Linked DNA regions of Homo sapiens: regions 1, 2, 3, 5, 6 and 7 are each linked to region 4. The links come from fine-mapping of genetic effects on gene expression. A gene starts in region 4. Each other region holds a variant in brackets. All regions are shown on one strand. Distances are from middle to middle.

What was found.
Region 1: its variant is fine-mapped to the expression of AMPD3 in lymphoblastoid cells (TwinsUK, PIP 0.95).
Region 2: its variant is fine-mapped to the expression of AMPD3 in monocytes (Quach 2016, PIP 0.95).
Region 3: its variant is fine-mapped to the expression of AMPD3 in cerebellar hemisphere (GTEx, PIP above 0.99).
Region 5: its variant is fine-mapped to the expression of AMPD3 in whole blood (TOPMed, PIP above 0.99). The same link has a PIP of 0.9 or more in prefrontal cortex.
Region 6: its variant is fine-mapped to the expression of AMPD3 in atrial appendage (GTEx, PIP above 0.99).
Region 7: its variant is fine-mapped to the expression of AMPD3 in whole blood (INTERVAL, PIP above 0.99).

The regions. Positions count from the first base shown.
Region 1 is chr11:10,614,552-10,618,617 of GRCh38, reverse strand. All of the region lies in intron 10 of IRAG1 (inositol 1,4,5-triphosphate receptor associated 1), which reads left to right. Among named protein-coding and RNA genes, the nearest start is that of LYVE1, 48 kb to the right of the region's middle. RefSeq lists a silencer at 900-1,100. The variant TG/G (reference allele first, on the strand shown) is at 2,327.
Region 2 is chr11:9,681,317-9,685,382 of GRCh38, reverse strand. All of the region lies in intron 1 of SWAP70 (switching B cell complex subunit SWAP70), which reads right to left. Among named protein-coding and RNA genes, the nearest start is that of SWAP70, 19 kb to the right of the region's middle. The variant C/T (reference allele first, on the strand shown) is at 2,255.
Region 3 is chr11:11,045,274-11,049,339 of GRCh38, reverse strand. No RefSeq gene overlaps it. Among named protein-coding and RNA genes, the nearest start is that of LINC02752, 68 kb to the left of the region's middle. The variant T/C (reference allele first, on the strand shown) is at 1,955.
Region 4 is chr11:10,453,698-10,457,763 of GRCh38, reverse strand. It overlaps AMPD3 (adenosine monophosphate deaminase 3), which reads right to left and starts at 2,500. Exons shown (of 15, transcript NM_001025389.2): 1 at 2,316-2,500. RefSeq lists an enhancer at 1,576-1,625.
Region 5 is chr11:10,495,043-10,499,108 of GRCh38, reverse strand. AMPD3 (adenosine monophosphate deaminase 3) reads right to left here. Exons shown (of 15, transcript NM_001025389.2): 9 at 3,376-3,539; 10 at 2,171-2,297. Among named protein-coding and RNA genes, the nearest start is that of MIR4485, 11 kb to the left of the region's middle. The variant A/G (reference allele first, on the strand shown) is at 2,367.
Region 6 is chr11:10,415,790-10,419,855 of GRCh38, reverse strand. The region is part of intron 3 of CAND1.11 (a long non-coding RNA gene); the gene reads right to left. Among named protein-coding and RNA genes, the nearest start is that of AMPD3, 37 kb to the left of the region's middle. RefSeq lists a silencer at 3,582-3,795. The variant A/G (reference allele first, on the strand shown) is at 1,859.
Region 7 is chr11:10,504,723-10,508,788 of GRCh38, reverse strand. It overlaps AMPD3 (adenosine monophosphate deaminase 3), which reads right to left. Exons shown (of 15, transcript NM_001025389.2): 15 at 1,210-3,081. The coding sequence ends at 2,905. MIR4485 (microRNA 4485) reads left to right here and starts at 463; the gene lies at 463-519. It also overlaps the pseudogene MTRNR2L8. The variant T/C (reference allele first, on the strand shown) is at 1,835.

The DNA.
Region 1 (4,066 bases), 160 kb before region 4:
TTCTTGGGAAGGGTTTGCTGGTACCTTCGGATCCCTTCTCCTTTGTAAAATCTCTCAGTGTGAAATTGTTTGGATGTTTCTCTGATTAATCTCTGTTCCCCTGAATAATGAGCTCCAGAGGATGTGGCATGTCAGTTTTGCTTAGCATTGTATCCTTAGCTCCCAGCTCATTGCCAGGGACATAGTAAACACTCAATAAACATTAAACAAATGTATGAACGAATAAGCTCACTGTCTAGGAGAGGAAACATAAGAATAGACAAAGTCACTACGATAAATTGTGATAAAACTTTAACAGGCCATAAAGTACCTGGGAACAAAGAGGAAGAAGCAGCTAGCTCAGTGGGGTTGAGTCAGGGAAGGTTTTCAGGAGGAGCCACCTTGAGCTGGGGAAGAGAAAGTCATCCCAAGCAGGGGGACAGCAGAAGCAAAAGCATGTAGGCATCTTCTAGTGCTTGGCATACTTCAGGAACAGAAGGAATGTCATGTGAACTAAGTGTGAGCTACACGTCCCAGAGAGATGGGCAACAAGGTGGGAACAGTGGGCTGAGACCAAGGAAATTGAAGGCTTTGAAGGCCAATTAATGAGTTTGAATTTCATTTAGGACACTTTGGAAAGAGAAGCCTGCAGGTAAGGAAGCATCAGGATCAAATCTATATTTTAGAATAATTCTTCTGGACAGATTGTGAGAGCTGGCCTGAAACAGCAGAGGCTAGAGACAGGGAGACACCAGGTAAAAGGATAGGGAAATAGCCTGGTGAGAGGTAATGAGGTGGTAGTAAATGTGGACAGGATAGTTTGACAGCTATTGGAGATCAGCTTGTCAGGACTTGATGAGGAGATGGAGTTGAGAGGCAGACCAGGAATACCACCAGGCACCTGTCTGCATGGTTGTGAGGGTGATGAATTGTGAGACAGGAGGAGGAGTTTGCTTGAGAAGGAAGACAGTGAATTTGAGTTTGGACATGTCAAATGCCCACGGAAAGCAGCTTGAATGCAACAGACAAACCTGGTTTTGCATTCTGGCTGTACTGCTGATAAGCTGGACCCTAGTAAATCACTTTAACTCAGCTGAGCTTCAGTTTCTCCAGAAAATGCATTTCATAATACATTCTTTGTACTTTCAGAAACCAATTTCTCTTCTTTGGAGGAAGCAATTACCAAAATTCAGCAGGTCCTACAGTTTCACTTCACTTCAAGTTCAATTAAACTCTAATACTTTTAATTTCAAAAAAGTATATCTAGTATAATCTCCCTCTTTTTCCCTTGCTCCTTCTGTATTTGTGGGGAAGGAGGTGTTTAAGCTATTTTTTATTTGCAGTACTATTGTAAGAAATGACAAAGTGTATCTACTGCATAGTTGATGTTCAGTAAATGGTGGCTCTTGAAATGATTTTTATTCTCCTTAACCAGGTGGCAACGTCTAGAAGGTAGTTGGCTATCTGGACCTGGATTTTGAGGGACACGTAGGCTGAGGCAGAGAAGTACATCGAATGGACAGTCCTTCCAAAACCCCCAGTCTAGACTCAGAGCCTCAGGTCTTGGGCAGGAAAGAGGCCTCCCTGAGAAGAAAGAGGTAAAAAAAAGTTTATCCCCAACTAGCAGCTTTGACTTTTAGGAACCATCCTGGGACTCAGAGCATCTTTCAGAGCTCCAAAAGTAATTTTTCCAAGTCCCTGACATGGTCAGAAACAAATATTTTCATTGGAATGAGCTAGTCCTGGGAGATATATTTGAAAATAAATTTATTACTTTTTGTTGAAAGTGGCTTATGTTCATATCTAAAAATTCAACCAATAGTGAAAAATACAAGGAAGAAAGTAAAAATAGCTTACACTAAACACCTCCTTCCCCACTAATACAGAAGGAGGAAGGGAAAAAGAGGGAGATTATACTAGATATACTTGTTTGAAATTAAAACTATTAGAATTTAATTGAACTTGAAGTGAAACTATAAGACTTGCTGAATTTTGGTAACTGCTTCCTCCAAAGAAGAGAAATTGGTTTCTAAAAGTATAAAAAATGTATTATGAAATGCATAAAGGGTTTGGAGTTACTGAGGTAGTTTTTTGTTTTTTGTTTTTTGTTTTTTGTTTTTGCTTTGGTATGAGTTTTAATTCAATTTTTATAAATAATCATGTCCATAGTACAAAATTCAAAAAGTACAAAATGAGACATAGGAAAAAGTAAGTCTCATTACATCTCTGTCCCCCAGTAGCAGAGGCAACCACTGTCACTATGTTTTAGTGTAACTTCTAGATATATTCCAAGCATTTCTAAATATAGACATATATGTAAAAGTGGATTTTTCTTTTTTTTTTTTTT[TG/G]AGATGGAGTCTCACTGTCACCCAGGCTGGAGTGCAGTGGTGCCATCTCAGCTCACTGCAAGCTCCACCTCCCGGATTCACGCCGCTCTCCTTCCTCGGCCGGGACTACAGGCGCTCGCCACCACGCCGGGCTAATTTTTTGTATTTTTAGTAGAGCTAGGGTTTCACCACGTTAGCCAGGATGGTCTCGATGTCCTGACCTCGTGATCCGCCCGCCTCGGCCTCCCAAAGGGCTGAGATTACAGGCGAGAGCCACCGCGCCCAGCCAAAAGTGGATTTTTTAAACATAAATCGTAGTATATTATACAAGGTGTTCCAAACCTTGCTTTTTTCACTTAGTAATATACTTTTTTTTATTATTATACTTTAAGTTCTAAGGTACATGTGCACAACGTGCAAGTTTGTTACATATGTATACATGTGCCATGTTGGTGTGCTGCACCCATTAACTCGTCATTTACATTAGGTATATCTGCTAATGCTATCCCTCCCCCATCCCCCGGACCCCACCACAGGCCCCGGTGTGTGATGTTCCCCTTCCTGTGTCCAAGTGTTCTCATTGTTCAATTCCCGCCTATGAGTGAGAACATGCGGTGTTTGGTTTTTTGTCCCTGCGATAGTTTGCTGAGAATGATGGTTTCCAGCTTCATCCATGTCCCTACAAAGGACATGAACTCATCCTTTTTTATGGGTGCATAGTATTCCATGGTGTATATGTGCCACATTTTCTTAATCCAGTCTATCATTGATGGACATTTGGGTTGGTTCCAAGTCTTTGCTATTGTGAATAGTGCTGCAATAAACATACGTGTGCATGTGTCTTTATAACAGCATGATTTATAATCCTTTGGGTATATATCCAGTAATGGGATGGCTGGGTCAAATGGTATTTCTACTTCTAGATCCTTGAGGAATCGCCACACTGTCTTCCACAATGGTTGAACCAGTTCATAGTCCCACCAACAGTGTAAAAGTGTTCCTATTTCTCCATATCCTCTCCAGCACCTGTTGTTTCCTGACTTTTTAATGATCGCCATTCTAACTGGGGTGAGATGGTATCTCATTGTGGTTTTGATTTGCATTTCTCTGATGGCCAGTGATAATGAGCATTTTTCCATGTGTCTGTTGGCTGCATAAATGTCTTCTTTTGAGAAGTGTCTGTTCATATCCTTTGCCCACTTTTTGATGGGGTTGTTTTTTTCCTGTAAATTTGTTTGAGTTCTTTGTAGATTCTGGATATTAGCCCTTTGTCAGATGAGTAGATTGCAAAAATTTTCTCCTGTTCTGTAGGTTGCCTGTTCACTCTGATGGTAGTTTCTTTTGCTGTGCAGAAGCTCTTTAATTAGATCCCATTTGTCAATTTTGGCTTTTGTTGCCATTGCTTTTGGTGTTTTAGACATGAAGTCCTTGCCCATGCCTATGTCCTGAATGGTATTGCCTAGGTTTTCTTCTAGGGTTTTTAGGTTTTAGGTCTAACATTGAAGTCCTTAATTGATCTTGAATTAATTTTTGTATAAGGTGTAAGGAAGGAATCCAGTTTCAGCTTTCTACATATGGCTAGCCAGTTTTCCCAGCACCATTTATTAAATAGGACTCCTTTCCCCATTTCTTGTTTTTGTCAGGTTTGTCAAAGATCAGATGGTTGTAGATGTGTGGTATTATTTCTGAGGGCTTTGTTCTGTTCCATTGGTCTATATCTCTGTTTTGGTACCAGTACCATGCTGTTTTGGTTACTGTAG
Region 2 (4,066 bases), 770 kb after region 4:
ATTACCTAGTCTGTGGTATTTTGCTGCAGTATCAGGACTAGGTGAAACAAGGCTCCTGCTAGAAAGCACCAGTAAAATTAGAAAATGAAAAGATCATTGTAGAACTATAAAGTTGATAAAATTAACTCCTCTGAGCCACCCACAAAGCATGCTTTCCCATACCTCTTTAAAAAGCCACCCTATGGAGGTTGTGGCAGGCCGAGATGGTGCTACTGCACTCCAGCCTCGGCACAGAGCGAGACTCCATCTCAAAAAAAAAAAAAAAGAAAGTCACCCTAATGGACAACAAAGTCCCCCAATTTGGGACAGCCTCCTGAGAGTCCAGCCCCCCAGTGAAATATTGCACAAATGTCTTTTAAGAAGGTAAATGATTTGTGAGGAGATTTAACTCCAGCAAGCTTCTTTATCTTTCTCACTACTCTGTAAGTTCCTTAAAGAGAGAGTCTGTATTTTAGCCATCTGTGCAATACGTATTTTAGCCATCTGTGAATACCAAAACCTAATGAAGTACCTAATGAGAGAGCTGTTCAACAAATGTTTGCTAAATTAGTCCCATTTAAGAATTTCCAAGAATTTTTTTCTTTTTTTAAATTTCATTTTGCTACTTTACCATCTTCATCTAGATCTGGGTCTTTGCATTTATTTTACTATACTACCATGTTTCTAGAAGAATTTTTAATTGGAATCTCTAGTTCAGATCACTTTCAGAGTGAAAAACAATGCCTCCATTAGTTCTTAACACCACCAGAACTAGCCAAGCACAACTCGTCTGGCCTGAGATCTAGTAGAGAAGTCCAGTTTCTTAAAATTCAAGTACAGACTTCTGAGAAAAGGACACAATAAGAATTAACAAGCAGGTGTGAGAGAAGGCTCTATAACAGAAGAGGGGGCTCTGAGCTCCTTGACTATCACCTCCTTAGAAGTTTAATTTAGTACACTCATCTCCAAGAGAAAATGTGAAGTCACAGTGTGCATTCAAAGTGGTGACAAAGACCACAAATCTGGCTGGACGCAGTGGCTCATGCCCATAATCTCAACACTGGGAGGCTGAGGCAGGAGGATCACTTGAGGTCAGGAGTTTGGGACCAGCCCGGGCAACATAACAAGACCCTGTCTCTATGAAAAATATAAAAATTAGCAAGGCATGGTGGCGCACACCTGCAATCCCAACTGCTCAGCAGGCTGAGGTGGGAGGACCACTTGAGCCTAGGAGTTCAAGGTTGCAGTGAGCCATAACAGCACCACTGCACTCCAGCCTGGGTGACAGTGTAAGACCCTGTCTCAAAAAGAAAAATTTTTTAATTTAAGAAAGATCACAAATCTGAAGTCATTAAAATATACAGAAATCAAAAATATATAAAATAAAATTAAAAATAAAAGAATGAAAAAAAATCACAAATGTGAGGTTTCCCTCGGCTGCCCCACCTTCTCACCAACCTGACCCCGCATGGTCCCTAAAATATGACTTCTATCCCTATCAATCTCTTGAAATTGCTTTTCTAAATGGATTCTGAGGTAGACACAGAGATGCACCACTCAGATGCCCCCTCAAGTAGGTAACTGCTACCCAGCTACAAGGACTGTGTTAAGCTGATAGCCTCCAGCTACTTTCAGGGTCCCAGTGACAGAGCGGGGTGGTAGGATCACTTTTCCTCAATGTGGGAGTCCCATAAGGGGCAATCTTTGCTTCAGAGCTCCTGGTTTTGCCAAATCCATATGATGGTTTGACAGTTCCTTTTCCCAATTTCATTTCCTCTCTCCCACCCCACAGGTAACACTTTTGTATTCCTAACAGTGTCTTAACATTGGCTTCCTGGAGAACCCATGCTGGGACAGATACCTTCTGGCCAAGTCACTCTCCCAAAGGTCTGGCAGTTGGCAGTCTGAATCACCCCCTCCTCTTAGACGTTTTTGGTCCCTGACATACCATTTTCTTTTCTTTTCTTTTCTTTTTCTTCTTTTTTTTTGAGACAGGGTCTTGCTCTGTTACTCAGGCTGGAGTGCAGTAGCTCGATCTGGGCTCACCACAGGCTCGACCTCCTGGGCTCAAGCAATTCTCCCACCTCAGCCACCATCCCCCACCCCTCACCCCCAGCAGCTGGGACTACAGGCACCTGCCATCACACCCAGCTAATTTTTCTATTTTTTGTAGAAACAGGTTTCACCATGTTGTCCAGGCTGGTCTCAAACTCCTGAGCTCAAGCCATCCACCTGCCTCAGCCTCACAAGTGCTGGAATTACAGGCATGCGCCAG[C/T]GTACCCAGCCCAGACAGAATAGTTTCTAAGTTCTTCAAAGGTAAATTTATGCAGTCACATCCATCATCCCTCATTCTCCCAATCTGGTCATTTCCCAAAGATCAATTTTCAACCCTCAGTTCTACTTTAATTTCTTCTTAGAAAGTGCTTTTGACCAGGCACAGTGGCTCACACCTATAATCCCAGCACTTTAGGAGGCCAAGGCAGGTGATCACTTCAGGCCAGGAGTTTGAGACCAGCCTGCCAACATGGCAAAAACCCTGTATCTACTAAAAACATAAAAATTAGCTGGGCGTGGTGGCACATGCCTGTAATCCCAGCTACTTGGGAGGCTGAGGCATGAGAATCACTTGAACCCGGGAGGCGGAGGTTGCAGTGCGCACAGATTGTGTCACTGCACTCCTGCGTGGGCAACAGACGAAGACCCTGTCTCAAAAAAAAATAAAAATAAAAATAAAGACAAGACATTCTGTGTTTATGAATCAAAAGACTTAAATTTTTTCAAATTTTATATTTTATAAATCTAAACATTTATAAAAAGAAAAAAGAAAGTGATTTTATTCTGACAACCTTAAGTCATCTCTATTCAAATGATTCATAGATCTCTTTCTGGTCTTAACCTCTCCAGTAAGCTCTGGTTTATATCACTAAACAATACTAGAGATTTCTATTCTAAATCTGCCTCACGTCCAAAAGATCCAAATGAGATCTCATCACTTTTCTCCCCAAAATAGGTTTGCCACCCTGATTCTGACTTTGGTATCACCATTGCCTTAACAAAACTATGGTCTCTTCTTCTATCTCTTTTTCATACAGTTTGTCCACCTTCTGGATCTAATTCAGCCCCAGCCAATGCCAACTCCTGTCTCTACTGCGTGAGCCGCTCTGTCACCTTCAGGCTAACCAAGCAGAGAGTGTGAGGCTGGGGAAACAAGGGCTCCTCCCCTCACCTCCCAGTACAAGGTCCCATTCTCCCCTCTCAGGTCCTGTCAAAGAGTTGCTGCAGAACAACTACTCCTCAGGATATAACCATGGTAAACACATCAAGCTACAAGGTTCAGTTAGAAGGCTAAACCTCAAAGAGCATGTCTGCCACCCTACATTTTACAAATGAGGAAACTGAAGCCCAGCAAAGAGAAGTGATTTCCCATTACCACACAAGTAATGGAGTACAGGTAACTCTCCTTACTCCCCAACTCCTCTCTCTCTCAACACTTTTCATGTTCCTCTAAAGGTTTTACTTTCTGAATCTTTCATCATAGTATTCTCACAGGGGAATTTCATACATCCTTTTCAAGTTAGTGACAAATGTCTCCTCCTCTAGGAAGCATTCTCTGAGCTAACTCCTCATGTCCTCACCCCAAGCTAAATAGGTTCCCTTCCTCTGCATTCTGCCTTCTGTATCTCACTGTATTTGAATTGCCAGTTTGCTCATCTGTATCACTCACAAGATTTTAAGCTCTACAAGGGGAGGGTACATATCTGTTTTAATTTCCATAGCTACCACTACTGACCCACACTCACCAACTTACCCAGACTTCATAGCACCCCACTAACAAGTCCCCCAATCTCCAGCCTCTCACCTTTAGTCATTAAACCTACATCATCAGAATAATTTTAAAACCGTATCTCTGCCATATATCTACCTAAAAACTTTAAATGACTTACCCTCTTTACAGGGTCAATTCTGAACTAATTCTAAGACAGACTGTCAGTCAATAAACATATATTAGCCATATATTCTGTGCAAAAACATTCAATGACATCTAAAATGTAGCCCCATCTCTCTTTAAATCCTAATTCTCCACTAT
Region 3 (4,066 bases), 590 kb before region 4:
TGTGTTACACAAAAATTAACTCAAAGGGGAGGAAGCAAGCAAGTCTGATGTGACTGCTTAGAGCAGCAGATCTCCCATCCCAATCCTTTTCCAGTGCCCACCAGAAGGTCACTAGGTCCTGGGTAGCATAAGACAGTGCACCTCCTGGTTACCTGGCTTTGTCCCAAAAGCCAGATGCAAGGTGAGGCCTCGGTTCCTTGGGTCAGCTTTTGAGGATGTGCAGAGTAGCAGAACACCTCTGGATTATCCATTTCTCTGCTGTCCAACTGAGGCAAGATGCAGAACAAAGCCCCTCCTCCAAGGACTAAATGTTGTAGAGGTGATCTGATCCTACACAGGTATCGTCTAATTCTATTTTTCAATCCCATTAAGTCCTCCAGCAATCCCTTAGTACCAGATTCTCTGAGGCACCTAATATTTTCCCCAGCTGTGCATGCTCCTGGCATATTTCATCAAAAGTGAGCCTGATGTGGGCCTCAACCTGGAGGTCAAAGGAGTCCACCATTACAGGTCATGGCTCCTAGAAATTGTTCCCAAGAGAAAGTCTACTGACCTTTGGTGACCTTGGATCCAAGTCAGAACACCCCCAGATTGTTGTGGGCAGTTTGGGGTGCTGTAACTTGAGTTGAAGATCAGCAGGCAGCTGTGTGTCCAGGAAGTCCCAGAACCCAGAAAAAGGTGAAAGAACCGCAGCTTCCTAACCTGGAGATAAGACTTGGTGCACAGTTTTTCTCTTCAGAAATCTGAGGGCTGCCATGGAGAAAGGGAATTGTGTTCTGTATGGCTCCCTGAGTGACAGATGGGACAGCCTAAAAGAAGACACAGATAATTTTTTTTCCCTAGAACTTCACAGTCATGAAATGGGCTGCCTGGAACAAGAGCAAGATCTGGAAGTCAGTGGAGATGTTACAGCTGATGGCTTTTGGAAGGAATGTTGTGGGGCTGGAATCTTAGAGAATTTACAGACTTTCACAACAGGGGTCAAACTAGAATAGAAAATTCTATGGATCCTTCCAGCACTAAATCTATGACTCCAAGAGGCCGGACCAGGGATGAGGCCTATTAGGAAGCCAGAATCCATGCTGCAGGTAAGGGTCTTCACCCACTGACCCTAACAAACCTGAGGGTCCACCCTAGAGAAATCCTAGAATCAGATCCTTACTTCCCCAGACCCAGATACCATTTTAAGAACTGCTGAAAGGGGAGGAAACCTCATCTGAGGAGAGCCCAGGCTGCTCTGCTACCAGGACACAGGCAGCTGGGTAGCTCTGAAGGGTCTTGAGTGAAAGGCCTCTATCAATCAGCCAGGTGCCATTAGAGCAAAGCCCTCTGGAGCTCCACGCAGCATCTCAACAGACCAGCTAAAACCAGTGGCTACTAAAGCCAGCTCAGATGACCCAAGCCCAGCCTGAACCACACTGGCCTGAGCAGAGACCACCTTGTACACACCCTTGCAAAAGACATATGCTGACTTGCTGCCCAGCCTCCTAACCCTGCCATCCAGCTGGTCATTGCCTTAAACCACAAGTTGGCAAAATTTTTCTTTAAAGACCCTGAAAGTAAGTATTTTGGACTTCGTGGGCCATATAGTCTCTGCTATAACTGCACAAAAGCACAGAGACATCATGTAAATGAATGCACGTGACTGTGTTCCAATAAAACTTTAGGTACAAAAACAGGGGTGGGCCAGATGGGACCAGCAGGCCATAGTTTGTCAACCCCTGATCCAAACTCATGACCACATTAGCCTGACAGGCTGGATTCTCCTGGACTCTGAGTTACCTCCATCACAGAGCCCTTCTCCTCTGTGCCTGGCCAATTTTCCTGCCTCTTTGGGGACTTCTGGCTCATTTGGGGCTGACAAAGACCAGAGAGCCCACCCCTGGATATCTCCAACCTCCTGATTCCTGCCATGCTACTCCTTGCCTCTTGCTGTATTCTCCAAGACACCCAG[T/C]GTCTTGCAGTTGTCCAAAGCTTCCCTCCACTCCTCTACCCATGCTGTTGCCCTGCCTGGACTGCCCTTCCCAACCCTCTTCACCAGCTGCCTCTCCCACCTTTAAGAAGCAGCTCAGCCATCTGACCTTCCAGGAGGCCTTCCTTGTACCACCTTCCCTCACTCTGCATCCCAGGCTGAGCCTAAGGCCCCCTCTTCTCCATTCTCATAATATTCTCTGCTTTCCCTGTTGTTTGAACATTGTCCATTGGTTGGCCTGCCTCTCTAATTAGGTTACGGATTCCTGGAGAACAAGAACAGTGCCTCACTCATCTATGTGTCCCTAGAACCCATCACAGGACTCAGCATAGATTCTCGGAAACAATTCGCCCAGTGGTGAATGTGTATCTCCTCATCTGCCCACATACCACCCTGGATCTTTGTGCAATCATTTCTCCACAACTGACTTCTGTTTCCACCCCTACCCCATCTGCATTTGTAATGCTTTCATTTAGCAGTCTCCTTAGAGGTCGGAGTCATGTGCATGCTTCTTCCTCCTTCTTCTCTGGACTTCAGGAGAGCTCCATCCCTCTGCCACCTCAGCTTCCCCACAGAGGTAAGCATTTCTTTAACAGATATAAATCAAAAATAAAATTTAAAGGCCCCCAACCATCTGAATGGGCTTCCTTCTCAGCCAGGGCTCTTAAATTTTAACCTGAAAGGCTGGTTCAGGCCATGAACGAAAGTGGGGGTCTGACATGCCTCATCATGCCTCTCTGGCACTAACGTCAACACAGACTTTAAGTCTGATAAGAAACATTGTACAACCTATTCTCGCTGAAGGCTTCTAGCTAAAAGCTTCATCTGCATGGTAAAATTTTGGTCTCCACAACCTCTTATCCCAACCCACACATTCCTTTCTATTGATCCCAGGCCTTTAGACAAATTCAACCAATTGTCAACTAGAAAATGTTTGAATTTACTTATAGCCTGGAAGCCTCCACTTTGAGTTGTCCCACCCTTCTGAACCAAACAAACGTATTTCTTAAATGTATTTGATTGATGTCTCATGCCTCCCTAAAATGTATTAAAAAAAAAAAAACAAGCTGCACCCCAACCACCTTGGGCACATGTTCCCAGGATCTCCTGAGGGCTGTGTCACAGGCAATGTGACATACTTGGCCTGGAATAAATCTATTGAAATATTTCACAGAGTTTGACTCTTTTCATCGACACAGAGATAATGAAGGGCTTGAAGTATTTCATCCCTGGGAATAAAGAAGAACTTTTCAAACCTGGGAGCATCATTACCACTAGAAGACACTCTGCTGGCTGCTAATCAAAAGAGCCCATGGATGCCAAGAGGCTGGCAGTGTAAGAAGAAGGAAAACTCAAACCTAGATCCCAGCTACAGAAAGCATAGTATTTGGGTGGGAAGTAGAAATGGTGAATTATAGCCAGGGAGAAAGCCAAAGATCCTGTTTTCTCCAGCCCCTCCTGGCTCTCAGCTCTCAAGCAAAACAGCTACACAGTCAGCTCTGGCCAGTCCTTGAGATTTCCCTGAGCAGGATGGGAAGAAGGCTGGGAGTCTCAGCCCCATTAGCAGGTGGGACCCAAGAGAACTCGGGACCACTGTGTTCTCACAGACTCGTTGGCTCCCCTGAGCTCTATCATGTTAATCTAGGTCATATGACTGGGCTTCTGCCTCTGTTTCCTGCCTAGCATGTCAATTATCTGCCGGAACTGGCTGTGCCCTGAGCCTCGGTCTCCGAGGCTGCAGCATGGCTCCTGGCCTAGCTCTTGCCATCATTTTCTCTGGGTTCCAGGATATGCCTCCTGTGCTCTGCTGTTACCACCCACTTGACACAGATGCAATGCCAACACACAAGAGGGGCTCATTAAAGGGCCATTCTGATCCTCTCCGGGCTCCCTGCTTTCCTGAGATGCCTGCTGCCCCTCCCCATAGGCCCCTGCACCAGATGATGCCAGCCTGCACCAGGCTTATTTCATTGGGGTACCTGGCAGCCACCACAGGAACTGGTCCAGTAACCCTGCCAAGCTCCAGTCTGATCAGTCCTGGCACCTCTCCTGCCCACAGGCCTGGTCCTGCTGTACCTCCACAGTCCTCCTACC
Region 4 (4,066 bases):
ACCACTATGCCTGGCTAATTTTTGTATTTTTAGTAGAGATGGGGTTTCACCATGTTGGCCAGGCTGGTCTTGAACTCCTGGTCTCAAGTGATCCGCCTGCCTTGGCCTCCCAGGGTCTAGGATTATAGGTGTGAGCCATCATACCAGCGCACAAAGCATTTTTAGCTTGCTCTAATCAACTAAAAATACTTTTCAGGACACAGCTTTCTATAACATATCTTCCTTTCTCTTTAGCTTAAATCAACCTTTCCCAAACTGGATGCCATAAGAAATTGATACCTGTTGCTGGTAAAACAGGTCCTGTGGTCAGTTATTGGGAGATGTTGCATTCCACAGCCCCTCAACTCACATTCATAAGGCTCATTAAAATCAAGGATCATAGAGTAACATTAACATACAGAACCCTTTTTGTTTTACAGAACCCATAAAAATCTTCCGCAGAACTACTACCAGTGTCTTAAATAGTTGGTAGATAATTCATTCCAAGACCGGGTGCAGTGGCTCATGCCTATAATCCAAGCAATTTGGGAGGCTGAAGAGGATCGCTTGAGGCCAGGAGTTCGAGATCAGCCTGGTGCAATATGTCAGAACCTCATCTCTACAAAAAATAGAAAAAAAAACAGCCAGGTGTGGTGGCATGCACCTGTGGTCTCAGCTATTTGGAAGGCTGAGTTGGGAGAATTGCTCGAGTCCTGGAGGTGCAGGCTGCAGTGAGCCATGATGGCACCACCGTACTCCAGCCTGGGTGACAGAGCAAGACCTTCTCTCAAAAAAAAAAAAAAAAAAGCAAGAAACAACAGCAACCACAACAAAATAATTAATTCCATATCTTAGTATGGACCAAGTAACCCACTTGGGGTGCTGCAGGCCTTAGCAGCTGCCCCCACATCTGCTGCCTTCTGGATGTCCTTGGCAGACAGCTCCCACCTGCCAACCCGTCCCTCCAGAGTGTCTCTCCTCTCAGACCCTCCAGACACCTGCCAGGCCAGGCCTGACAAGGAAAGCTCACTCTGCAGATGCCAAGCAGAGCTTCAGCTCCAGCTGCATGTTCACGCCTGGCTTCCAACCCTTTGTCAGCTGAAGCCAGCAGGCTTGGGAGGCTTAGCTGTGAATTCACCAGCATCAGTCAGCCAATGATACAGCTTATCTCACTGTTACATGCAACACGCTCTGATGAACTTGAAGAAGTGTCCCAAAGTTAGAAAGTTCTAAAACACTGCCAGTTTCAACAAACAGTAACTTTTCATGGTGCCACAGTCCCTCCAGAAAGGAAGCCCAGTGCCACTGAAATCCCCTCGTTATACGAAGGAAGCTGGTTCCTACTCTTGCCAGACTCCCCTTGCAGAAGCCCCGACACAGACCTGAGCCTGGCTCCATGACTGGTCCTGAAGATGCCACTCAAGTGATGCACCCGGGTGAGGTGCTGCCTGCCACCCAGGAGGCTCAGCTGAGTCAGTGCGTGCGTGCAGCTGGCTGGGTCCTGTCTGCCGGCTGGAGTAGGAGGTCTCTGTTTTGCATATCTGTGAGCAGCAGTGAGCCAGAGCAGGAAAAGCCTGGGCTGGAAATTCTCTCGTGAATATGAAATATGAGTGGAAAATTTCCAAGAGCCCTGAAGTCCCCAGGTAATCCCAGTTATCCAAAACAAAATGGCTGTGGTATCCTGAATGCAGTGTCCTGGCCCTCTTCACAGCCCTCACAAGAGGAAACTAAAGCGGCGGCTTCCTCTTTACAACAGTAAACTCAGCCGTCCTGCCCAGCTGCAGGAGATAAGCCACAGCCTCCCTCTAACGCCCAGCCTCCTCCTGAAAGCTGAGTAGCAACGAGCGATATCATCACCTTTGCTGCTTCCGTTCTGAACGTGCTTCAGGCCTGGCTGCATTTTATCAAGGGGATTGGTCTCAGGTACAGCCCGACCTGCCTCTTCTCAGAAAGCCCCCCTAAAGCAGCCCTCCCAAGGGCACCCCATAACTGCCAGGGGGAGCTTCAATCCCAGTTGCTAATACAATCCCCTCCATCCCCTCCTCCTCTGAAAGGGAAAGACCATGAACTGCTTCCACCTTTCCCAGGAAAGGACAGAGACTCAGGGAGCAGGAACTGCCTCAGCACAGAGGCGGACAGAGGACAGGGGCAGGCTAGGATGAAAAGCTGACAGCCCCATCCCACTCCTTCCTTTCTTCCCAGAAGGAAGCCCACATCACAGGTGACTGCGAAGCCTGATAAGCTTTACCAGAACCCCCACCCCCATCCACACACACAGAAAAGGAGTACACCCCAACTGACCCACCGGAGCCCACCCCAAACCCTCCCCTGCTTACAGCCGCTCACTGCTCCCACGTGGGCCTCCAGCTCCGAGCGCTGGCTGGACTCTGCCACTCCTCCTGGGGAAGGTGGAGCCTGCCTCAAGTGACCCACAGGAGCAATCCTCTAAAACCAAGCAGGGTTGATTAAAATGGCATCACAGGGTGCAAAGCTCTGATCTTCATCTGCCCTTTAGGAGAGTGGGAAGGCTCAGAACAGACACATAGCCTCCCAGTGACTTAGGCAAATCCTGTGGTCCTGGGAAATAACCATGAGCAAAATGGCTATTTCTGTGGTGCTGTTGAAATCCTGGGGAGAAGAGCTCAGGAAGGATGGGTCAGTTGTTTACCGGGAGGCTAGCTGTAACCCTGACTTGGGCCTGAGTCACCTCCGCATGTCCAATCGTGAGGTTGTGTCTTACTGAGCTCACATCATAATTCCTGTGTGCACAGAGCAGTATTACAGGGTTGACACATGATCCTCGGGCTGCTGCTGGGCTTTAGCTACCCAGAGATTACGGCCCACCTGTCCTCACAGCTGTTTCATAAACAGTGCAACCAGCAGGCTACAAGCAACCTAGAGGGAGGGTAATATTTATTCATTAAACAATTAAATGAACTTACAGTATGAGAAAAAAATCCAAGCCCTTAGTACTATTCTGCCAGAAGGAGGAGGGGCAGATGACTTTTTCTGCTAGTGTTTTGGGGAAAGGGGAGGTAGAGTGGGGACTGCAGTGGGAGGATTCCAGCCCAAGGATTTAAGTCCGACACGTTCAGGGAATTTTATTCTGCACCTTTAACCGGATCCCAGCTAGCCTTAGTCTAAACAAGCATTTTTCAAAGTGCAGTCTGCAGAACATGAAAGGTCAGAAGGCTTGGAAAACACTGCATCCTGTAGTCCCTTATGGGTATTCATGCACAGTTTCTACTAGCAAATTCAACACCTGAGAAGTCCTGCAGTAAAGAAAGCTGCTTAACTTTGTTTAACCCGACGCACTTATTTGACCATCCTAGAACTGCTGTCATAGGAAAAAAACACCTATTAATATCTTGTGGTATCGGCTTTGGGAAACACCCTCCACCTTGAGTCTTCATTTTCCAACTTAGAGAAAGCTGCCTTCCTGGAGCCCAGTTTACAGGTATGAGACCCATTGCATCGGGTTCAGACAGAAACCAGCAGCAGCTCCACTAAGATGACACAGGTTGTAACAATGACCAAGGGTCCTGCTGAAGCCAAAAGGCGGGAAGACTCCCCAGAACATGGGCAGTTTAGAAGAAAAATACAGTTCTGTCCCAGAAGAGCAAGCTCTTCTCAGGACCTCACAATTCCACCTTGAGCCTAACTTGTTGCTGCTTCTTGCAGCCAAGATGTCTCTGTGGACTGAAGAGCACTGATCCCAAGCTCAAAGCCTTATTTCCCTTTCGAACAAACATCAAGACAATTTATGATAACCAGATACAGGGCCCGCTTCTCCTGCCCGAGACTAGACTGCATCCCCTTTTATCACTTAAGCACCCCTTACAAACTCTAAAAGACAGGAGAGGACGGAATCAAATTATGTCTCATCAAGAAAGATATCGGCCGGGCATGGTGGCTCATGCCTGTAATCCCAGCACTTTGGGAGCCCGAGGCAGGTGGATCACAAGGTCAGGAGATTGAGACCATCCTAGCCAACGTGGTGAAACCCCATCTCTACTAAAACACAAAAAATTAGCTGGGCATGGTGGTGCGCACCTGTAGTCCCACCTACTTGAGAGGCTGAGGCAGG
Region 5 (4,066 bases), 41 kb before region 4:
ACAGATAAGAGGGTCCTTGCTGGGCTAAGCCATGGCTCCTGGGAGGCAGCTCTGCTCTCCAATCCCCACTGGGAGCTGCCCTCTGAGATGGGCCTGAGTAGCCTCAGGAAACCCCCACCCTTCCACTGCAGTTCTACCTTGGCTGGGACCCCTGGGGGGCTGCTCCTGAGTCACTGGAGCCTTCTGGCTGATCCCAGGGGTCATCCCCAACCAAGAACACATGCATGGAGGGTACGGGCTCTCAGCGCACAGGGGAGGCTTGCTACCAGGCCACGGCAGTGCTTTGCAAAGGGGCCTCTGAATAGCAGATGGGAGAAAGAGACTGTCCCCCTTAATCCACAACTGGCCCAAACTGGAGGGCTCCCAGCCCACGCCCCAGACCCCAGCCAGGTCTGCTGGCCTCTCCTGTTCCTATGGGGGCAGCAAAGGCCCAGAGGAGCAAGGCAGCTTGGCCAGAATCTTCCGTGTCACAGAGCCCTGTGTGTCAAAGGAAATGACAGGGTCCCTGCTATGACCCTAAGCACTCCCTAGACGGGTTTGGGGGGCCAGGGAGGACCTTGAGCTCTGCTCTGTGCTCACTAGCTCCATACTTCACCCGAACTTTCTGGGGCCTGGCATGCGGATAATTTCAGCCCCTCTTCAGAGCTCTATCCAGCTGAAGCAGGGCCTCACCACTGCATCTCCCACAGCCTCGGGTGCAAAATGCGTTGTCTCCTCCTCCTGCTCTTCCTCCTCCTCCCCATACCTGCTCTTCCTCCATTGCTGGCAGCAACCTTCGGACAGCACATCATCCATGCTCCTGCAAAGCCAGGCACCTGGGAGGCATCCTAGACTCCCCCCAGTGCCTCCTTCAGTCTCTGTCCAGGTCCTGCCAGGTGTACGCCCACCGCTTCTCACCAAGCCCCACACTTTGTGCAGAGTCCCTGCGCTGCCACACCTCAGAGACGCAAGCTGGTAGCTGCTGTGCACCTTACTATTCTCACTTGGGAGGCAACATAGAATAGGGGTTCAGGGTACATCGCTGGAGTCAGCCTGCCTGGAAACGCATTCCAGCTCTGCCACTTTTAGCTTTATGATCTGTTTTAATTTCCTTGTGTGTCAATTGAAGCTAGCAGCTTCACAGGGCTTTGGTGAGGATTAAATGAGATAATCCAGGGAGAGCACTCAACACCGTGTCCAACACGCACCAAGCACATAATAATTCCGCTTACTGTTAACAACAAAATGGTGATAGTAACGGGGTAATTGTGAGGCTTAGGTGAGATCACGTTGTGGCGTCTGACCAGGCCAGGCAGAAGCACGCACGAGTGTGAGCTATTTCCGCTGGGTCAAGCTCCCCTCCTGTCTCCAGGCAGGCCCCTGACTCTCACCCCTGCCCCCACCTCCAGCTACCTTCTCTTCTGGGCCAACTCCACACAACAGCCAGAATATGTTTGTCTAAAACATAAATTTGATGATGTCCCTCAGCTTGTCCAGTCACTTTCTGGGCACACAGACTCAATTCTTTCCCCGTGCCCCAGCCCTCGGGCTCCCCGCTGTGCCTCTCCCTGTAGAAAGTCATCCATCACCAGGCACTGGCCTGTATCACCATCTGATACCCCCTCGATCCCAGGCATCCGGAGGGTGGGACCGGCTCCCGCCCCCTCCGCCTCCCTCCCTGGTTAAGCCTCTCCCAGACTGCTCCTCTCCTTCTCCTACAACTGGATCCGGAAGGGAAATACACTTTAGGGGCTTGTACTTAATCACACATGGTGTGAGGGCCTCTGTTGCGAGGTAAAGCAGGTGAATTGAAGTGTTTGCATTTCCGAAAAAAAAACCTGAGGCTGCTGCTTGGTGCTGCCGGGGGCTAGATCCAGCCTTTCCAGCCCCACCTGGCAGGAACCGAGTTCCCAGTCTTTGCCCACTGTTGCCTTCCCTGCTGGGGGAAAGGCCTACCCCAAGACCACCACCCCCATCCCCCCACACCCACTGACTCCCAGAGCTGCCCCTGAGGAGAAGGGGACTTTTTAGAAATCTAGCTTCTTGGGGCTGGTGACCCCACGCCTGGAACACAGGTGGCAGGACCTAAGATACCATCGTGAAGGGCAGGAGCAAGCCTGACCCAGCTCACAGCGAATCCATTCCTGCCTCTGCCGCTATGAGCCCTGCCTAGGGCACCACCCACACTTACATATTTAAGGAAGAGGTGAAGCTCTCGATGATCTTGGGGGTTGATAGTGGCCTTGAAAAGGGGCAGGAAGATGTTCTCCAGCATCTTCCCAAAGTTTGGCAGCAGCTTCTTTGACCTAAATATGTCACTGGGGGACAGCAAAGACTCGCTTGTCAGGTGGATCCAACAGCCTGCTGCCCTGTCAGAGACCAGCCCC[A/G]GTCACTTCCTCAGGCACCCTGTGTCCCCATCAAACACCCAGAATCAAGTCAGATGGGACCAGAAAACAGATCCCTCCTCTGTCCTCCTCTCCCAGCAATGTCTGCAATATTCTGCCTTGGTTTGCAAGCTCCACACCTACCCATGCCCATCAGAGCACTTTCTCAAGCCAGAAGCCACTAGGAATGGGATGGTGGCATTCTGGCTGACCAAGAGACTGAGATATGAATCCTCAAATTCCCAGTGACCCAAACATTCTGTTACTCAGCTCTGTTTCCCTAAACCACATACCCCAGCCCATCCTGGAGCCATGGGCTCCACCCTGGCCAGCCGCCTGGAGAGGACAGCAGCCGTCTGAGTGACATCCAGGGAGAGGCCAGCAATGTAGACCACTACAGCTCTCCCCATACCCTGGGGCTCACCAAAAGGACAATCCATCCTCAACCCACAATGAGAAGAAGGCGGGGGTAGTAGTTCCCCCAAGGCCTTTGCACATCTATATTTTTCAAAGATCAAGAGTTCTAGTGTCAGCTGGATGCAGTGGCTCACACCTGTAATCCCAGCATTTTGGGAGGCTGAGGCAGGTGGATCACGAGGTCAGGAGTTCAAGACCAGCCTGGCCAAGATGGTGAAACCCCATCTCTACTAAAAATATAAAAATTGGCCAGACGTGGTGGCGGGTGCCTGTAATCCCAGCTACTCGGGAGGCTGAGGCAAAGAATTGCTTGAATCAGGGAGGTGGAGGTTGCAGTGAGCCAAGATCATGCCACTGCACTCAGAGCCTGGGTGACAGAGTGAGACTCTGTCTCAAAAAAAAAAAAAAAAAAGAGCTCTAGTGTCATGCAGACATCTTTTTCATCACTCCTTCTATGGAAAAATCCCTGGAAAGGACAAGCGTAAGCTGGCACCAGAACAGGCCCTACCCCTCAGGAGTGCAGACTCAGCAGCCCATGAGGGACAGATTGTCACCTCTGTAGGGCACAGGGTAGACAGCGGGCCACCTCACTTACTAAATCCGGGGCACCTGGATGATCCAGCGCATGTTGGGAGAGTAGACCTTGTGCTGGATGAACCAGTAGGCCAGGTTGGGCCACTCCTCAGGACTGCGGCCGTAGATGGAGAGCCGTGGCTCTGAGTACTGGTACTTGCTCTCCTCCAGCTCCCGGGCAACCTCCTGGCACAAGAAGAGCTTGGGTCAGCCCCAGTGCATCCCAGCTACATGGGAGACTCTCACTCTCCGTCACCAGCAGGGTCCTGTTGCTCCCCCAGCCACCTTGCTCCCAGGCTGGAAGCACTCATCTAAATCCCCAGGGCTGCCTGCTCCTGTAAGCTCTTGTTCCACTTTAGGAGAGGCCCCCTCTGGTGAGGAAGGCCTTGGGTCTGCAGAACCAGGCCACAGCAGAAGCATCTCCACACGGAGCTCATCTGCACCCAGCTAGGTTCAGGCTGCAGAGACACGAAAGCCAGGCCAGGTGCTGTGAGCTTGGCCAAGGTGGATACCCTTCCCTCCTCTTTCCTGCAGTTGGCACATGCAGCACTGCCTGGAGCAGGCAGCCAGACCACAGCACTGGGCACCTGGGCACCTCACCCTTCCCTGAGCTGATGGTACACAGAGGGAGGGGAAGGGGCCAGGGGCACACAGGGCCCCCACTCTCTGAAGGCAGATGTTGGGAGGCACCTGAGAGGCCTCAGAGAGACTGA
Region 6 (4,066 bases), 38 kb after region 4:
ATACCATTTTAATCAAACTGGAAAAAATTGCTATTAAATGCATAATTTCTTTATTAAAAGAAAGAGGAATCATGAAATGAAATATACAGAAGCATGCTGAAGTTCATCTGTTGAATTTGGAAGTGTGAATAGTGACAATACTGAGAAAAATACAGACTCTAATCTGCAAACTGAAACTTCATTTGAGCCTCATTTCAAAAAGAAAAACTTAAGTGCAAGACGCTATTATGATTACTTAAAATATGGCTTTATCAAATGTGAAAAGCCCACTGAAAATGACAGACCTCAGTGTGTTATTTGTAATAATATTCTTGCAAATGAAAGCTTAAAACCTAAATTAAAAAGGCACTTAGAAATTCAGCATGCTGAACTTATTGATAAGCCTCTTGAATATTTTCGAAGAAAGAAAGAAGACATAAAATGATCAACACAATTTCTTAGTTGTTCTACTACTGTTAGTGAGAGAGCCGTATCATCATATTTAGTTGCATATCATGTGGCAAAAAGAACATAGCTAACACAGCTGCTGAAAAAATTATTCTTCCAGCATGTTTGGATACAATGCATATGATTTTTGATGAGAAATTAGCTGATAAATTAAAAACTATATCTAATGATAACACAATTATCTCTTTGGATTTGTAGTATTGCAGAACGTTTAGAAACAATGCTTATTACTCCATAACAGTCTGGTATAGATTTTGCAAAGCAGTGTGATGAAAGCACTGATGATATTGGCAGCTGCACAAGACATTCAGTTTATGTCCGATATGCGTGGAAAGATGATTTTATGGAGGGTCTTTTGTGTTTTTTAAGTTTAACCTCATACCCAAGTAGATTAGATATGTTTACAGGATTAGAAAGGCACAGAGTTGGTCAATATAAATTAAACTGGAAAAACTGTAAAGGAATTGCAGGTGACGTCACAGCAAAAGTAACTGGAAAACACAGCAGAGTCATTAAAAAATTACTAGAAGTGACTAATAGTTGTACTGTGTGGAATCATTGTTTTATACATCATGAAGGTTTAGCATCCAGAGAAATTCCACAGTATCTCATGGAAGTACTGAAAAATGCAGTGAAGTTGTCAGTTTTATTAAAGGAAACTCACTGAATAACCAGCTTCTTGAAACGTTTTGTTCAGAGATTGGAACTAACCATACCCACTTTCTGTGTCATACCAAAGTTCGTTGGTTGTCTCAAGGGAAAATACTAAGCAGGGTTTATGAGCTCAGGAATCAGATTGACTTTTTTTCTCATTGAAAAAAATCTCATTTGGCAAATATTTTTGAAGATGACATTTGGATAAAAAAATTGGCATATTTAACTGGTATTTTTGGTATTCTTAATAAACTGAATTTAAAACCACGGGGGAAAAACAGTGATGTATTCCAACATGTCAGACATATCCAGGGATTTCGAAAGACATTATTGTTATGGCAAGCAAGACTTACAAGTAACTGTCCTAGCTACTACGTTTCCAAGATTTTTGCAACATATTGAAGAGAATATTATTAATGGAAACATTTTGAAAGAAATAAAATTAGAGACATTGTTGAATCTCACTTCTCTATCTCAAATTTTTAACCATTTCTTTCCAGAAGAAAAATTTGAAACATTCAGGGAAAATAGTTGGGTAAAAGATCCGCTTGCGGCAAGGTGCCCTGGCTCACGCCTGTAATCCCAGCACTGTGGGAGGCTGAGGCGGGCAGATCACGAGCTCAGGAGATCAAGACCATCCTGGCCAACATGGTGAAACCCCGTCTCTACTAAAAATACAAAAATTAGCTGGGTGTAGTGGTGTGCGCCTCTAGTCCCAGCTACTTGGAAGGCTGAGGCAGGTGAATCACTTGAACCT[A/G]GGAGGCAGAGGTTGCAGTGAGCCGAGATCGTGCCACTGCAGTCCAGCCTGGCGACCGTCTCAAAAAAAAAAAAAAACAATCAGTTTGCTTTTTGAAACCCAGAATCAATAACTGGGCTTAGTTAATAACTGGTGCCTGAAGAAGAGAATGAATTATCTTAGTTTAGTTCTTCATATACATTGAAGAATGATTATGAGACCTTAAATTTATCAGCATTTTGAATTAAGGTAAAGGAAGACTTTCCTTTGTTAAGTAGAAAGAGTGTCCTACTATTACTACCATTCACAACAACTAGTTTGTGTGAACTAGGGTTTTCTATCTTAACTCAGTTAAAAGCAACAGAAAGGAATGGATCAAATGGTGCAGCAGCTATGTGGGTAGCATTATCTTCCTGTGTTCCAGACTGGAATGAACTTATGAACAGGCAAGCACACCCATCATAATAAATAAAATCTTATCTAGGTTTTGGTTTTGTATTTCTTATTTTGTAGTATTTTTCTATGTTATATTTAAATGGGAATATAACATTATATGTGATACTTTTGTTATGTTTTAATTTTTGTTGTATCTGATAAAATTATTTTATGTTTGCTTAAAAAAAGAAAGTATGGAAATGAGATAATACATGTGAATATACTAAAGTGCTCTGTTGACTGTAAATCATTGAACAAATGTAGTAACTATTACATTTATTTCTAAAAGGGTGCTCTCTGGAGGGTAATGGAGGTATGTGGTCAAGAAATAGTTAAAAGTCAAAACCCTAAGTGGCTACAGATGTTTAATGGTAGACCAGAAGGATGGGGAATCAATGACTTTTGGCAGTAAGGAGCCCTTTGTAGGTCAGCATCCACCCCTGCTGACCAGCCTGCTCCCATGATGTGGCCCAGCATGAGGCACAGCTGAGGAGAAGCCAATCCTGGGCACAGCTGGAGGCAGGCAGAGACCCTCACAGGTGTCTAGGCCATGCTCCTCAACTGGACAAGGCTGGTAGAAGCCACCTAGGGGGATCTGGGCCAAGGAAGAGCTTTAGAAACAAGGCTGGAAAGAGAGTTTTTATTCAGGTTGCCATAGGTGGAATAGAGCCAGCAGCACGGACCAAATGTCAGGTGCAAAAGACAAGGTGAAGCCAAACATGGAACAATGGCAGGTCAGGAACTGGCAGGATTAGGAACAAGCCAGAACACAGTGTGTGGAGCTGTCAGGTGATGTTCAGGTCCAAAGCTATCAAGCAAAGGATATTGAGACCCATGTTAGTGTCATGCTGGCTTTGTGACCCAAAGACAGTCCCTAGTATCTTAAGGAACCCATGCAGAGCCAAACATACTGGATAAAAATAAACTTCCTCAAAAACATGACTACTGGGCCGGGAGCAGTGGCTCACGCCTATAATCCCAGCAACTCAGGAGGCTAAGATGGCGGGATTGCTTGAGTCCAGGAGTTTGAGACCAGCCTGAGCAACATAGCAAGATGTCTATAAAATATTAAAAATCACCTGGGTCTGGTGGCACACACCTGTAGTCCTAGCTACTTGGGAGGCTGACGCGGGAAGATCACTTGACCCAGGGAGGTTGAAGCTGCAGTGAGCCATGATCACCACACTACTGCATCTGGCCTGGGTAACAGAACAAGACCCCATCTCTTAAAAAAAAAAACAGCTATTGAAAATTTTCTCCTTTATTGTGAGCTTTCAGCACCTGCTGATGGAGAGACTGAGAATTCCCCACTATTGATATTAAGACCCATTTTTTTTTTGAGACAGAGTCTCCCTCTGTCTTGCCCAGGCTGAAGTGCAGTGGCACCTCGGCTCACGGCAGCCTCTGCCTCCCGGGTTCAAGCGATTCTCCTGTCTCAGCTGGGATTACAGGTATGTGCCACCACACTTGGCTAATTTTGTATTTTTAGTAGAGATGAGGTTTCACCATGTTGGCCAGGCTTCTCTCGAACTCTTGACCTCAGGAGTCCTTGGCCTCCGAAGTGCTGGGATTACAGGCGTGAGCCACTGCACCTGGCCAAGACTCATTTTAAGCAAGCAAATCATTTCAATGCAGACAGTATGGCATGCAGACAGCTTGAGATGCAGAAGAAGACTTAGAAGCAAAACCAGACAATAAATGAAGAGGATGCTGACAGAATCAGGACAGAGATAATCTCCTGGACACATCTGGCTACAGCTGTCACAGTCCCCTAGAGAAGAGGGACTGGCATCA
Region 7 (4,066 bases), 51 kb before region 4:
CAAATCCCCCTGTAAATTTAACTGTTAGTCCAAAGAGGAACAGCTCTTTGGACACTAGGAAAAAACCTTGTAAAGAGAGTAAAAAATTTAATACCCACAGTAGGCCTAAAAGCAGCCACCAATTAAGAAAGCGTTCAAGCTCGACACCTGTCATCTAAAAAATCCCAAACACATAACTGAACTCCTTGCACCCAATTGGACCAATCTATTACCCTATAGAAGAGCTAATGTTAGTATAAGTAACATGAAAACATTCTCCTCCGCATAAGCCTACATCAGACCAAAATATTAAACTGACAATTAACAGCCCAATATCTATAACCAACCAACAAGCCATTATTACCCCCACTGTTAACCCAACACAGGCATGCCCACAAGGAAAGGTTAAAAAAAGTAAAAGGAACTCGGCAAATCTTACCCCGCCTGTTTACCAAAAACATCACCTCTAGCATTCTCAGTATTAGAGGCACCGCCTGCCCAGTGACATGCGTTTAACGGCCGCGGTACCCTAACTGTGCAAAGGTAGCATAATCACTTGTTCCTTAAATAGGGACTTGTATGAATGGCTCCACGAGGGTTCAGCTGTCTCTTACTTTCAACCAGTGAAATTGACCTGCCCGTGAAGAGGCGGGCATAGTATAACAAGACGAGAAGACCCTATGGAGCTTTAATTCATTAACGCAAACAACACTTAACAAGTCCACAGGCCCTAAACTATCAAACCTGCGTGAAAAATTTCGGTTGGGGCGACCTCGGAGCACAATCCGACCTCCGAGCAACACATGCCGAGACTTCACCAGTCAAAGCGAATTACCACGTTTAATTGATCCAATAACTTGACCAACGGAACAAGTTACCCTAGGGATAACAGCGCAATCCTATTCTAGAGTCCATATCAACAAGGTGTTAGCTGGACAGACTAAAATAATACCCCGGGAAAAGGAAAGGAACATGTATAGCTTTGCTCATGAACTATAACAGGGTAGAAGTTAGAGAAAATAACAAAGGAAGATTTATCTTCTGGGTCTGGTGAGCTTCAGTTTGAAAATTTTGAGTTTTCCTAGTGAATGTCATTCATGTCGGAGTCTTAGTAAAAGATAAATTAGCTATTATTATTGATAGCTTTTCATGGTGCCCAATCTTAAGAGTAAAAATCTTTAACATTTGCTTTAAATATGATTATCTTTAAATAGTTTTAAACTATTGAGCCACAGTCCTAGCTGACTTTATTTAACAATTTAAAAAAAGATACTTGATACAGATAAAATGACAATGAGAAACTACACAATACTTCCTATGTTAGGGCAAATGTATATAAACGGGGGCTTTTCAAAACTAATCCCTAAGATAACAATGGATTTTCATTCAATTTCATAATTAGCTGTAAGATAGCATATATATCTGCCTAGTAAAAAGACTGCATTTATACTTCCATATGCTGAATTGACCAGTGGAGGGGACAGGCATTATAAAGTCACAAGATGAGACAATCTAAAGTCAAATAAGTTCACAGGCAGAAACTGGATTCTTCTTCTAACTATAATGATTCAAAAAGACCTCCTGTAGTCTGAATTTGACCACAGAAATAGATAGGAAGGTCCTTGAGCAGCCTCTTAAGTACTAAGAGCACATGTCCTTAAAAAGTTGCCAAAAGAAATTCACTTAGTTATTCAATATGCATTTATTGAGCACCTACTACATACCAGGCACTAGTAACACAGATAAAGAGTACACTGATAAAGCTTAATTCAGATTAATCTTTAAAAATGCTTTCTACTTGGCCCCTGGGACCATTGTATCTTCTGAAGTCATCATAGTAGATAAGGGAGAAATT[T/C]TGCCTTAAAAAAATGCATCCGGTTACAGTGATTAAAAACACACACACACACACACACAACTAACATTTGTGGGGTCTAATGGAATAGTGGGGAAAAGACAGGATTTGGAATAAGGAAATCCAGTTTAGGCCTATTACTTATTAGCTGTGTGCCCTTAAGTTAAATTTCACTTATCTGGCCTAACTCTTAATTGGTAAAGTGATAATTGGCCTACAGTTGTAGCATATTAGAGCCAAAAGGAACAGAGATCATCTAGTCCTGTGCTTTTTGAAGTTCTTCGTTCAAATGAAAATATTATGTAGCAGCCCCAGTGTAAAACTGATGAACGCAGTCACTTTGACAGCCCCTGAGCATCACTCACTCCCTTCCCTCCCCTACCCTAAAGTATTCATGAGGAGATTCACAGAACACCCTGAAAGCCACTCATCTAGTCCAAACCCTCACTTTCTAGGTGAAGAAACCAAGACTCAGAATAGGAGTGGCTGTTTTCATGAGTACATTTGGCTTCCAACTAGAAAGAGGGAAGGAGGGCTAAATAAAACGGTTTAAGAAATTCACTAAAAACACAATTTGTCAAGAAGGAAGTCTTCCATCTTAACTCCTTCAAAGTAGCCCCTTTATGAAATGGAGCTTTGAAATTGATTGTGTTTAAGGCAGCCAGCCATCCAGAGGCTGAAATGAACAACTACCAATTAGCCTACCTGGGCCAATGGAGAAAAGTATGGCAGAAAACCACATGTTACTTGGCATCTGACCAGGGAAAATCCTGGCCCCAACAGTTCAGGCACTGGCAGTTTCAAGAGAAATACTTGGAAAATTAGGAACAAGTATAGACAAGTGCTCAGCTCCCAGATCCCCAAGGAGAAGTCACCATCTTGTTACTCAGAAATACTAACAAGTGAGCATGTTAACTCTTAAAGTGAGCAGTGCAACCAAAATCACCAGTTTAAAATTTCTTCAGAGGCATCCTCTTCACAGAGGAAAGTCCTAGTTCGGAATCTTGACCACTATTAGCCACAGCAGACTTGAAATTGAACCAAAAAGTTAAAATGCATGTCAAATGCTGGACCTAGTTGGTCAAGGCGGTGATCTCTTCTGATTTCATAGCATCAGACAGGAAGCTGAGCTCATTGCATAAGGTCTCATATCGGAATGCCATCCGGATCTGAGCCACATTTGTCTTTCGAATATCATTTCCTTCAGGTCCTTCTTTATAATAATTTTGTCCCAGAAACTTTTGCTTTTCCTGTGGACCAAGAGAAATACAAATGAAACTATATACTTTTGATTCACTTTCTATAGCCATGTGGGCAGCTTTGACATCAGTCACAGCAAGTCAGACTAGTCCCCCTGAAGCAGATCTTTGGTCAGGACATCTTATCCCCACAGAACTCTTAAAATTCCTGCTGGCCTCTGTGTCCTCAAGGATGTCACCCTGACAACCTCAGTCATCCTCAGACAGCCCTTCATTCCTGGCTGTGCTTTCCTTGATCAGAGAGGAAAGATAAGGTCTGCAGCAGCTGCTGGGGATGGGAAAGGCAAAGGGGAAGGAGGTAAGACTCTAATTAAGAAGCCCCTGAGAGCTGACAAGGACAATGTTCCTGGGGAGGGCCAATCCAAGGCACCACACTGCGCATGAAAAGAATCTTAAGCCTTTAACTCTGCTGCATCATCATCCGACGAGCACAGCCCCTAATGCAACCTCTTCCCAACCAGTGACATCACCCAGGGAGGTGTCGGGGGACCTAACGTACATCAGAACATGGGTCTCAGTGCCAGCTCCTCATCAGGCTTTTTAAAAAATGACAGATGTCTGAGTCCCATAGTCTAGATTTTTATTCAGTCTAGATACTGTTCATCTATTCAAGAAATATTGAGCGCCTGCTATGTGCCAGGGACTATCTAGGGCCCGGGGATATAATTCTGAACAAACCTCTGCCCTCACAGAGCTTACATGCTAGAGGGAAAGACAGAAAAACACATAACTAAACATCAGCAGGAATAAATGGTATGGAGAAAAACTGATTAAGGGGATAGAGAATAATAGCAAGTGTGTGGCTATTTTAGAATGGGCGATCAGGGAAGGCCTCTCCAAGGAGGCGTAGAGGTCTGAGAAGGGTGAGGAAGCAGCCATGAAAACACAGGAGGCTGCCGCGTCTTCTCTCCCTGTGCCTGAGTGTCTCAGAGGCCCTGCCTGCTATGTTCATCACAGATCCCCAGTGCCTGGAAGG